Linked DNA regions of Homo sapiens. The protein of the gene in region 1 purifies or fractionates together with the protein of each later gene. This does not show direct contact. Each region holds a gene or a part of one and is shown on either strand. Other genes may lie near its edges.

Region 1 (3,107 bases):
TTGATGTTGAAATGAACACACTTGTTTTACCCAAGTCTGGTGGAACAAATGCCCAATCATGTGACCTTAAAGTGTACTGCAAAGCTGTAGCTTTAAGTAATTGCTGTTCTGCCACTGCTTACTCTGAAATCTACCATCAAAGAAAGATAGAGAAAAGGGGCTGAGCCTTGGAATATATGGTTATAAGCAGATCTTTCTTTGGTCAGAGACCAGGGTTTGAGCCAAGGCTGTAAATGTGAACAATAGCTGTGCAAAGCCTTTTAACCTGACTTCTTCATTTTGTAAATTATTATGCATTAAGTAGCAGCCCAATAATCTGATTTCTAGTTTTATTTTCAAAGTAAGTAGCTTCTTTTGGGAAAAACCTAAGTTAAACTAGTAGTTTTGCCATAATAACTGCTGATTTATGTATTTGCTAAAGGTACTTTTGTATCTGCTGTGTATTATAGCAATAAAATAATCATTTTGTTAGAAAAAAATCACCTGGTGTTCTTTTGTAATACACTGATCTGTTACAAACATCATCTTTCTGAATTCTGCATTGTTACATAACAAGCCCTACGCTTTAAACCTTTCTGTGTTCCCTGTTGGTAAGGGAAATGCCAGCTCCCTCTTAGAGTCGAGAGGGAAAGAGAAAAGAGAAAAACTGTTAAAAATGTTTTTATTTTTTAGTAAGCAAAATTTTACGAAAAGTCAGATTCACCCGTGGAGCCAGAACCTTCTTTCTCACGGGAAGACTGTGGTACCAGTGCGTGTTGGTCGGGTGGTTCATCATTAGTAAGCTCCCGTGGGCCAGCGGCAGCCTGACCACCGCCACCCTCCTGGAGGGGCTTTTCCCACGGGAATCCTTATGCCGGAAGACAAAGTCTCTGCAGGCACCGAAGGAGACAGAGGCAATGGGGCTCCCAGGGGCCAGTTCTCTTTCATCATCTCGGTGCTCCCCGATGTGGTCACAGCCATCTTTATACCTGCAATGAGAAAACAAACACAGTGCATAAAAACAACCCTCTCCTGAAACTCACCAGCACCGCCAGCCCTCGTTTTCCTCACAGTGTGAAACAGCACTCTGCATGGCTGTACCTGCCGTTGTTTCTGCGAGGGCTTGAGGTCCACAGTGGGCTCTAAGATAAGCCAACGCTGAAGAGGTCTGTTGACGTATTTGTTCATGTGACTTATTTATTATTATTTTTGAGAGGGTCTCGCTCTGTCACCCAGGCTGAAGTGCAGTGGCACAATCATAGCTCACTGCAGCCTCGGCCTCCTGGGCTCAAGTGATTCTCCCACTTCAGCCTCCCAAGTAGCTGGGACTATAGGTATGCACCACCCCACCTAGCTAATTTCTTTTCTTTTGCAGAAACAGTTTCACCATGTTACCCAGGCTGGTCTCAAACTCGGGCTCAAGCAATTCACTCTCCTTGGCCTCCCAAAGTGTTGGGATTACAGGCATGAGTCACCACGTCCGGCCAGTTCATGTGCTTTAAAACTGAAGACACCCAAAGCCAAAATCACGTCTTACTGTAGTTCCCCTGGCCAGTCTATGTAAACCTTTATCACATGATTTTGCCCTGCACTCAAAGGCCATACTCTGCATAGCCCGGCCCCTGCCCACTGCTGAGCTCATGCCATCCCCTTCTTTCCCTCATTCACTGCTTTCCGGCCATCCTGCAGCATTTTTGCTTCACAGACACTCCAGAGTCCCTCTGCTCTCCCTCCAGATGTCTGTGGCTGGCACTCTCCATTTAGTTATCAGCTCAAACGCACTGCCTCAGCCCTCCTCTAACCACCCCATCTGAAGTGACCTTCCCTTAAACCCACCCAGGGTTCTCCACCAGGGTGATTCTGCCCCAGGGGACAGGTATTGGGGGGTGGGGGACACTACTTGCAATCTAGTGGATGGAGGCCAGGGATCTGCTCAACATCCTGCAAGGCACAGGTCAGCCCCAACAACAACGAATGACTGGGCCCAAAATGTCTGCAGTGCTGCCGTTGAGAAACCTTGCCCTAATCGCAAACCTCTCAGCCATTCTCAGTCAAATCGGCCTGTTTAATTTTTTGCAAGATGGTTATCACTGTCTGAAATCGTCTAGGGTCAGGCATAGTCGTTCACGCCTGTAATCCCAGCACTTTGGGAGGCTGAGGTGGGAGGATCGCTTGAGCCTAGCAGTTTGAGACCAAGCCTGGGCAACATAGAAAAACCCTGTCTCAAAAAAAAAAAAGAAAGAAAAAGAGAAGAAGAAATTATCTCATTCAGCTGTTTGTTCAGGAGTTAATCACCTCTCACTTCCTACTCCGGGATGAGCTCCAGGATCCAGGAAGACCGAGTGCTGGCGCTATTCCACTCTTAGAGCCCCAGTGTACTAAGAAATGATTTGTACCAATGAACCAAATAGGGTGGAACCCTAAACACTTCCTTTTGGAGGAGACAGAAGACTTGTAACATTGAGTCCACTAAACAGGGTGTCACCTGTTGATGAGCACAAAGTTGAAGGTCTGTCCAGTCACCCCAGAGACGTGATCCCGGATGCGCTCTAGAACTGGGATCCAGGGCTTTGGAGACAGCGTGAGGCCTGAAAATGTGTAGGTCAGCCCAGCGTCGCCATACGTTGCCTGCTTCCTGGGCACACTGTGCCACTTCCCGAATACCTGGACTCTGGCCAGTGCTCCTGTGCAGAGGAAACATGGCAGTTCCTTTCTACCTGACCCCCATCTAGAAATCCAGATGCCCCCCCCAACCCGCACTGCCATCACCAGAAATCCAGTGCCCCACATACATGCTCCCTGGGTATTCAAGATTGAAAGGGAAGTAAGGAATAACATTTCCCCGTCATTCCATGCAATTTAAACCCCTCTTCAATCATCATTTTGGCTTGCCCCAAATTTTCTTTTTGTTTTGTTTTCTTTGAGACAGGGTCTCCCTGTGTCACCCAGGCTGGAGTACAGTAGCACAATCTCAGCGCACTTCAACCTCCACCTCCCGTGCTCCAGCAATCCTCCCGCATCAGCCTCCTGAATAGCTGGGACCACAGGGGCGTGCCACCATGCCTGGCTAACTTTTTTGTAAGCTCACTGCAACCTCCACCTCCAGGGCTCCAGCAGCCCTCCTGCCT
Region 2 (3,823 bases), on another chromosome or scaffold:
GCCTCCCAAAGTGCTGGGATTACAGGTGTGAGCCACCACACCCAGCCTATTCTTTTTTAAAAAATAGCTTTATCTTCTCTGATTATGAAAGTAGTGCATGTAGAAAACACAGAGAAAGTATAAAGGAGAAAACTCTGAGAAAAACCATGGTTAATATTTTACCGTGTACTTTTCAGACTTAATAAATACAAATATGTATCAATTTTTAAAAGAAAAAAAAATTACCTGCCTTTTTTTTTTTTTTTTTTTTTTTGGAGACAGAGTCTCGTTCTGTTTCCCAGGCTGGAATGCAGCAGTGCAATCTCAGCTCACTGCAACCTGCGCCTCCTGGGTTCAAGTGATTCTCCTGCCTCAGCCTCCCAAGTAGCTGGGACTACAGGTGCACGCCACCACGCCTGGCTAATTTGTTGTATTTTAGTAGAGACAGGGTTTCACCGTTGTTGCCCAGGCTGGTCTCGAACTCCTGAGCTCAGGCAGTCCACCTGCCTCGGCCTCCCAAAGTGCTAGGATTACAGGCGTGAACCACCTTGCCCGGCCAATTACCTGCCTTTTTAAATCCAGTCTCATCAACCTTCCTCTTTCCTGAAAAGGGCAAGCAAGCAAAGCATAAAGGATAAGGGAATGATAGTGCTCACAGCGTGGAGGTTTAAAGATGAGTCCTGGGCCGGGCGTGGTGGCTCATGCCCATAATCCCAGCACTTTGGGAGGCCGAGGTGGGCGGATCACAAGGTCAGGAGATCGAGACCATCCTGGCTAACATGGTGAAACCCCGTCTCTACTAAAAATACAAAAAATTGGCTGGGCGTGGCAGTGGGCACCTGTAGTCCCAGCTACTTGGGAGGCTGAGGCAGGAGAATGGCGTGAACCCAGGAGGTGGAGCTTGCAGTGAGCCGAGATCATGCCACTGCACTCCAGCCTGGGCGACAGAGCGAGACTCCATCACAAAAAAAAAAAAAAAAAAAAAAAAAAAAAAAAAAAAGACAAGTCCTGGGCACCATGGCTCATGCCTGTAATCCCAGCACTTTGGGAGGCCGAGGTGGGTGGATCATGAGGTCAGGACATGGAGACCATCCTGGACAACATGGTGAAATCCTGTCTCTACTAAAAATACAAAAATTAGCTGGATGTGGTGGTGTGCACCTGTTATCCCAGCTACTCAGGAGACTGAGGCAGGAGAATGGCTTGAACTTGGGAGGCGGAGATTACAGTGAGCTGAGATTGTGCCATTGCACTCCAGCCTGGCGACAGAGTGAGACTCCGTCTCAAAAAAAAAAAAAAAAAAAAAAGACAAGACCTGATTGGAAAAACTGTAGTGGGTTTCTTAGAACTCATTCCCTGTAGGAAATCCTAAGAATGCCTGACCTTTGGCTAAGCCAACAGGGAGAGCTTGTTGGTCTTAGTCACTTTAAAGTGTTTGAGCATTAAAGGTTAGAGGTTTTAGCAAAACCAGAGTTATTTTCCATCACTGTACCGTGATAAGACCCTGGTGTCAGGTTTGAATGGCTGTGCTGGTGTGCATGCATACTTCACGGCCCATGAGTCTTACTGATTCACAACTCTTTATGGAAAAGTCATTTCAACTGCTACCAAATGAACAATTTTTACAGCTTCTGAACAAATTTAATGTATAGCCCAAGCAAATTACAGTAATCTAGCCTAGAAGGGCTGAAAACACATATTAGTGTGTCAAGATTTCTGCCAGAAAAAGAAGCACTAGTTTTTGTGTGCATGCGCTTGTGGGGTTTTTTTGTTTTTGTTTTTGTTTTTTTAGTATTAGCAATAAACTGTGTCTCTCAAGAACACTAACGTGAAGACTTCCACACTGCAAACACAGAAATAAACTCAAAGTTAGGAACCCAAAGTTCTCATTCTAACCTTCAGGCTTTGTTTGATGTGTTATAGGTAACTCTGATATTATATTGTGTCAAGGTTTCATATTCTTTAAAAACAAACTTTTATTATGTTTTTTGTTTTATATTAGAAAAAGTAATAAATGCTCATTGTAGTAAATTTAGGAAGTATAAATAAATACAATTGAGAAACTAAAAGTCACCTATAATGCCCAGTCAGACATACCACTGTTCACATTTAGGAATGTATCAAGTTTTTTTCTATGCATATATATGATGGGTATATTTAAAATAAAAAATAAAAATGGCTCATAGAGGATATACTAGCTTGTATCATCTATATCTAGATATAGATTTTTTTTAGAGACGGGGTTTCACTCTGTCGGCCAGGCTGGAGTACAGTGGCACCATCCATAGCTCACTGCAGCCTCAAATTCCTGGGTTCAAGCAATCTTCCCACCTCAGGCTCCTGAGTAGTTAGGACTGCAGGCATGTGCCACCACACCCAGCTAATTTTTTTTTTTTTTTTTTTTTGGTAGAGATGGGGTCTCACTACATTGCCCAGGCTGGCCTTGAACTCCTGGGCTCAAGCAGTCCTCCCGCCTCAGTCTCCCAAAATTGGGATTATGGGTGTGAGCCACTGAACCTGTCTCCTCTTGTTCACTTAATAATAGATCATGAACATCTTTCTATGTTATTATATATGTAAATACTTATGTAATATACATCTCTAAATGTTTTTGCCCATTCATCATTATTATTTCCTCAGAATAAATTCCTAGATTTGTTGGGTCTCATGACTTATAGCTGTTTAAGCCCATTGATACATATGGTCAAATTCCAAGATTCACTGTTACTTGTATTCCAAGATTTACTGTTATTTATTTTCTGCTTTATTCCAGAAAGGATTCAGTATTACTGAGTTTGACATTTAATATCATTGTTGAGTGTGGAATTTTTAAATACACTAAAGTAGTTTTGCCAGTGAGTCACAATGAAACTTTTTTCAATAAGCTTAAGCCATTTCCCTTTAGAATTCTCGAACTTCTAATGTATTCAGTCATTGGCGTGTTAGAGAAGTGAGAGTCAGCAGGATCCCCAGTTATCCTCCAGAGACTGTGTATCCGCAGTGGAAATTGGGTGGCAATATTCCTGTCCTATTGCACTGTGCCTTCTCCTTCTGTGCCAGGCAGCAGTGTTGACAGGCTACCACATGAAACAAATGTTTGTGGAGGCATCCCCAAAGCTATCTAACTCCAGTTATTCTGGATGAAATGTCTCTTCTGTGGTAGCAAGCTGTTGACTGGGTTTTTCAAATCCTGGTTTCCCTATGTAATTTTTGCAAGAAGACTTTAAAAAAAATTCTTGTTCATGCAATACATTCTCTGGGAACCCCAAAGGGCTTGTTAATTTGTTTCTTTCCACACTGACCCCCACCTGGCAATTCTGCCTGTCCCTGATTTGCTCACCTTCCTCAAAGTTTCACCTCAAGTAACTGTCTTAAAAATGAAGACTTCCAGCCCGGTGCAGTGGCTCACACCTGTAATCCCAGCACTTTGGGAGGCTGAGGCGGGCGGATCACCTGAGGTCGGGAGTTCAAGACCAGCCTGACCAACATGGAGAAACCCCATCTCTACTAAAAATACAAAATTAGCCAGGCATGGTGGCGCATGCCTGTAATCCCAGCTACTCGGGAGGCTGAGGCAGGATAATCGCTTGAATCCGGGAGGTGGAGGTTGCGGTGAGCCGAGAGCACAACTCTGCAAAAAAAAAAAAAAAAAAAAGACTTCCGGCTGGGCACAGTGGCGCATGCCTGTAATCCCAGTGCTTTGGAAGGCCAAGGTGGGCGGATCATGAGGTCAGGAGTTTGAGACCAGCCTGACCAATATGGTGAAACCCTGTCTCTACTAAAAATACAAAAAATTAGCCGGGTGTGGTGGCAGGCGCCTGTAATTCCAGCTACTCGGGAGGCT

What was found.
Region 2: the proteins of ALKBH2 (region 1) and ARL3 purify together in Homo sapiens (affinity purification with mass spectrometry; one large-scale study listed by BioGRID and IntAct). This does not show direct contact.

The regions. Positions count from the first base shown.
Region 1 is NC_000012.12:109,087,545-109,090,651, forward strand, and holds the end of ALKBH2 (DNA oxidative demethylase ALKBH2), read right to left. Parts: intron 2,664-3,107; coding exon 2,465-2,663; intron 969-2,464; coding exon 662-968; 3' UTR 645-661; downstream 1-644. UniProt on the Homo sapiens protein: Dioxygenase that repairs alkylated nucleic acid bases by direct reversal oxidative dealkylation. Can process both double-stranded (ds) and single-stranded (ss) DNA substrates, with a strong preference for dsDNA.
Region 2 is NC_000010.11:102,700,582-102,704,404, reverse strand, and holds part of ARL3 (ADP-ribosylation factor-like protein 3), read left to right. Parts: intron 1-3,823. UniProt on the Homo sapiens protein: Small GTP-binding protein which cycles between an inactive GDP-bound and an active GTP-bound form, and the rate of cycling is regulated by guanine nucleotide exchange factors (GEF) and GTPase-activating proteins (GAP).